Regions from separate parts of the Homo sapiens genome. Here region 2 is linked to region 1. The links come from fine-mapping of genetic effects on gene expression. A gene starts in region 1. The other region holds a variant in brackets. All regions are shown on one strand. Distances are from middle to middle. Region 1 holds the start of SLC17A2 (solute carrier family 17 member 2). Region 2 has its middle 27 kb from the start of SLC17A2.

Region 1 (2,919 bases):
CTTTCTTTCTTTCTTTCTTTCTTTTTCTTTCTGACAGGGTCTTGCTCTATTGCCTAGGCTGGAGTGCAGTGGTGCAATCTCAGCTCACTGCAGCCTTGAACTCCAGGGCTCAAGCAATCCTCCTGAGTAGCTGGGACTATAGGCATGTGCCACAACATCAAGCTAATTTTTGCATTTTTTTGTGGAGACGGGATCTCCCTATGTTGCTAAGGCTGGTCTTGGATTCCTGGGCTTATGCGATTCTCCTGCCTCAGCCTCCCAAAGTCCTGGGATTACAGGCATGAGCCACTGCCCCTGGCCATTATAACTATTTTCATTGGCTTATCAGGCACATGATAACTATAATAAATCAATAACCAGAATTTTTAAATAAAGAAAGGAAGGAATTGTTTCAACTCTTCCTGCTACCCCTCTATCCCTCAAAAGGGTAGGCTGAATGTTGTCCTCCAAAGATATCCATGTCCTAATCCCCAGAACCTGTAAATATATTACCTTATATGACAAAAGGGACTTTACATGTTTAATAAGTTAAGAATTTTGAGATGGGCAGATTTTCCTGAATTTTGCAGATGGGCCCTAGTGTAATCACAAGGGTCCTTATAAGAGACAGGCAGAAGAGTCAGAATAAGAGAAAAATACTTCAAGATGTTACACTGCTGGCTTTAAGGTGGAGGAAAGGCCAAGAGCCAAAAAATGCAGTGGTCACTACAAGCTGAAAAGAAAAAGAAATGGATTTTCCCCTAAAGCCTCTGGAGGGGGCACAACCTTGCCAATACCTTGATTTTGGCTCAGTGAAACCCATTTTGGACTTCTGACCTTTAGAATTGTAAATAAATAAATAATTTTGTGTTGTTTCAAGCCATCACAGTTGTGGTAATTTACTACAACAGCAATAAAATAGAATTAAATACAGAGATCTGAGGAGTTGAGTAGGATAAGCCTACTCCAGCAGGTTATTTCGGGAGTATGGTGAGACTCACTAGGATGGCGGAACTCAATTAAGGAAGTCTGAAGCTGATAAGCCAGAGAGGGAAGGCTCTCATTTCATTTTATAAGGGTTGCGTCACACTAGGAAGATCCAATAGCAACCACAGTCTCAAAATTAATGATTACAAATAGGACACAATTCCAAGAGTCGGGAGCCAAGCAGAAAATGGATTAGGGAAGACATGGATGATATGAAACAGGAAGGAGGGGTACAAGGCAGCTTCCTGGGAAGTTGCCAGGGCAGTCACAGTTCACATTCATTAGGCTGTGGGCACCAAATGCATATGGAAAATCTAGCTGACTTAACTGAACTCCTGAAGAGGAATGAACACCTCATTTATTGAGGAGCTACTACCAATTAGAATATGTATTTCATTTGTTCAATAACCCCATGAGTACAGTAACACAATCCTTGCTTTACTAAAGCGGAAGCCAATTCAAAGAGGTTCAGTGACTTGTCCAAGCTCAGGGAAAACACTAGGAAGTGAATATGGGTCTGACTCCATCACTGATTTCAGGAGCCCTGCCCTTTCCTCCACACCATGCCCCCTTGCTTTCAGAAAAAAAGGCTTGTTGACTGAATGGTTGTATGCACAGTTCAAAGCAGAAACACACGATGACATCTTTTGAGATACTCTAACAGTGAGAACTTGAAAATGAAGTTAAAAATTAAGCGGCAAAACCAAGCCGAGGCTTTCTGAGAAAGTGGGGCCAAACCTGTTGCCGTCTGACTGCCACGTGGCTCACTATTTATCCCTGTAAAAATCTGCAAAAGTATTTGAAAGGGAAGAAGGGACAGAAAACTCCCTCCTTTTCCAAGTTAGCCTTATAGTCTAGGGCTTAAAATACTGGTTTAATGGTGAAGGTAAGTGCTTTTCTTCTTTTTGGGTAGAAGGATTATTACTAACTTACCAAAGGTCCATTAAGGGGAGGGAACAGTTTTAGGAGAAGTCAGAGAAAAGACATTAACAGCAACATAAGGATCTCCATCTGGTAATATTGCCTAATTCCAAAATGAAGAGACTCTCTGAAAAAGATAACTGATTCAATGAAGACCCTAGGGCAAGGCTTGAGAAGCCACTGGTACCAATGGACACTGTGGACAATGGTCATTTCTCCAAGGACGCTGTGAGTATTAACTGTGATGCTGTGATTAGTCAGACTGGGATTGGCTGTGGAATGAAATACTGATCAGAACTGACAAGATTTGTGTTTGGGACTGTGGCTAACGAGTCTTTTCAGACTTCTATATGAATTTGAAATGGTCTCTCAGGAAAAGGAGAACATGGCCGGGCCTGGTGGCTCACGCCTGTAATCCCAGCACTTTGGCAGGCTGAGGCGGGCAGATCACTTGAGGTCAGGAGTTTGAGACCAGCCTGGCCAACATGGTGAAACCCTGTCTCCACTAAAAATACAAAAATTAGCAGGGCGTAGCGGCGCGTGCACCTATGCGCATGCATAGTGCGCGTGCCAGCTATTCAGAAGGCTGAGGCAGGAGAATTGCTTGAACCCAGGACGTAGAGGTTGCAGTAGTTGAGATCATACCACTGCACTCCAGCCTAGGTGACAGAGTAAGACTCTGTCTCAAAAAAATAATAATAATAAAAGAAAAGGAGAACATGACCAAAGTTATGAATAAGACTGAAGGCAAGAAAATTGTACGCTTGTAGAGATCACCTAGCTTGTTGCCCTCATTGTACAGCTAAGAAAAGGCACCCAGGGACATTGTGGTCAGCACCAATTTCTCAGAAAGATAGGCAGATGATGAGAGGGCCCTCAGTTTTTCTAACACTGAAGGAATTGCTTCTATGTTTTCTGGTGAACTCCTCCCCACTCATCTTGAGGATTCCAGGCCAGAAGAATCCACTTTAAAAAAGAAACATTTAAAACCAATTTAACAACCAATCAAAGGCACTTTTATAGAAATACATT
Region 2 (2,919 bases), 27 kb after region 1:
AAATTGAGTAAGTCTTTTCCTCTTTTGCAGATACCATCATTATTCATATATTTCTTCAAAGTTAACTATTTGTATTTGGTAATTTTTAATAGAAATGTAATAATTGCTTCTCAAGTTTAGTCTTTAGTCTTAAGGTTGATGCTCTCCATGTCCTTCCAAAAAAAGGTATGTTGCTTTTATTATATCCTCGCCTTCAGATGGGATTATTCCATTTTGTTCTTTGTTAATATATACTTTGAGCCACTTTTTTTGTGGCTCTGGGTGAGATGCTATAGGTACAATGACAAGTGATACGTGTGTTGTCCCTGTCACAAAAGTGGATAGCCTAAGTGGTGACTTTTACCTCCACTCCAAATATATGTATCACACACCAGCCGTATGCCAGGCACCACTCTAGGTGCTAGGGATACAGCAGTAAACAGACAAATGCAACCCCTGCCCATGTGAAAGAGAATAAGACAATAAATAAGTAAAGTGCATGTTATATGGAGGTGGCAAATGCTAAAAAGAAAAATTAAGCAGGCAAGAGGACTCATTGAAAAGATGACATTTGGGTAAAAGCCCATGTATATATGTTCTATTGGTTTTATTTCTCTGGAGAGCCCTGACTAATACACAATGACTTTGAGAAGTTACTGGCTTTTGATTTATCACACTATTCGGAGTGCTGAGAGCCTTCTTAGTGTGTATTCAGTGTTTTAAGAGAGCTTGTGGATGAATAATAAATAGGACAAAATTTATCCAAACTTAAGCCTTGCTTTAGGTAAAAGGGCTCCTCTTACAAGGTAGAAGGTTATTATTTGGCATTTAAATCCAACTGAAGACTAATAAGACTAATTAATTAAAAGTTTTTAAATCACAACTGGGTGCAAAATAAATGGAACTGCCATGCTCGCCAAGTGTGCATGAGTGGTGTGCATGGGAGACAGCACGAAGCTAATCCCACTCATCTTGCAGGTTGCTCCATTTTTCTCCTAAAATCAGTAAGACAGAAGCTGGTCAGATTATCAAGAGCCCTAGTTAAACACAGCAGTAGCATTTGGAAGGGGTTGCTCTCATTAGGCAGTGCCTGACCACAACAAGAGATGAACAAGCCCTGTATCTGAAGCCATCATGCCTAGTTATGGTCCCCCACTGTTCATGATGCCTG[A/G]AAGGGAGGCCCCCTGCACCCTAGAAAGCTGGGTGGGTTCTACTGTCTGCTTTACTGCTAAAAACCCTCTTCTTTGGATCTGGACTTTACCTCTATCTGATTTTTTTTTCTAATATATGATTTGGCACTGAGTCTGTCACTGCTGCTAACTCAGCAGTTCTAGGGTCATTGCCCCATTGCCTCACAGAAAGAATTTCATAGCTTCCAGCATCCTCTCTCCTTCATTATACTTTGATTTCAGCATTGCTATTTTTTCTCTTGGGTGTTGCAGCTCTCTCTCTCCTTCCCATGTCTTGTTGGTTTTCTGCTAACTCCTGCTTTTTTTCTTTTTTTTTTTTTGAGACGGAGTCTCGTTCTGTCACCCAGGCTGGAGTGCAGTGGCACAATCTCGGCTCACTGCAACCTCCGCCTCCCGGGTTCAAGCTATTCTCCTGCCTCAGCCTCCCAAGTAGCTGGGACTACAGGCGCTCACCACTATGCCCCACTAATTTTTGTATTTTTAGTATTGCTGTCATCAATCCACATGTCCAGAAGCACCTAGAAACTCTAATTCTTTGTAGGTATCAAACCCTAGGACTCTTTCCTCTAATCACAATATATAATCCCTGATTCCCAAACACGGTCTTTTCATATACATTTTCCACTGTACATACTTTCTGACCTGGAAAGCTCTTACACAAACACGCCCTCCCCTAGGAAGCCTTTATAAATGTTCCCAGGAAGAATCAGTCACCCAACAGTGTCCTTGTCACATCTTAGGTTCTACACCTTTATTTGTTCTATCTGAATGTAATCTCCCAGAGGGTGTTATCATCTTTTTTTTTGAGATGGAATCTTGCTTTGCTGCCCAGGCTGGAGTGCAGTGGCATGATCTCGGCTCACAGCAACCTCCACCTCCTGGGTTCAAGTGATTCTCCTGCCTCAGCCTCCTGAGTAGCTGGGATTACAGACGTGTGTCACCACACCTGGCTAATTTTTGTATTTTTAGTAGAGACAGGGTTTCACCGTGTTGGCAAGGCTTTCCTCGAACTCCCAAACTCAGGTGATCCACCCGCCTCAGCCTCCCAAAGTGCTGGGATTACAGGTGTGAGCCACCATGTCCAGCCCCATCTTTTTCTTTTAGTTTAGTTCTTAACAAATAGTCTGACACAAAGTGGATATAACAATATTTTGAATTATGAATAACTAAATGAATATTTCCAGATTTCCTGGTGCTCTCAAAGTTTTATGTTACAAAAGAAAAACAAGTCTAAAATACCTGCCTCAAGTTTTTATCTGTACTATGATTTCAAACCAAATAAAAAACAGGTGGGGTAAAAACTGAAACAGGAAATACATATAACTGAAAAATTTTGGTATGTTAGTATGATAATACTAGGTCATTTTTCCTGTTTCCCCAACTTCATTTTCTATAGCAATAAAAAGAAACAAGTAAATGTATATTAATTTAATTTAAAAGAAGTAGTCTACCATCTCTTCTGTTAAAAAGAAAAAAGTATTTTAAAAAATTATCTCTGGAAGGATACACAGGGAACATTGCTCTGGTTTCTTCCAAGAGAGAAATGAGGAACTAGAGAGCATGGCCAAGTGGGGTTTTGCTTTTGTTTTTGTTTGTCTATCTGTTAGCTTTTTATTATTTTCTTTTGTAGGTTTGAATTTCAAACCACATAAATCTGTTACATGCTCATAATAATAAGTTTAAAATAAAACTTTTGGCTGGGTGCAATGACTTACACCTGTAATCCCAGCGCTTTGGGAAGCAGAGGTGG

What was found.
Region 2: its variant is fine-mapped to the expression of SLC17A2 in testis (GTEx, PIP 0.95).

Annotation. Positions count from the first base shown.
Region 1 is chr6:25,929,473-25,932,391 of GRCh38, reverse strand. SLC17A2 (solute carrier family 17 member 2) reads left to right here and starts at 1,701. Exons shown (of 12, transcript NM_001286123.3): 1 at 1,701-2,115.
Region 2 is chr6:25,902,071-25,904,989 of GRCh38, reverse strand. No RefSeq gene overlaps it. Among named protein-coding and RNA genes, the nearest start is that of SLC17A2, 27 kb to the left of the region's middle. The variant A/G (reference allele first, on the strand shown) is at 1,151.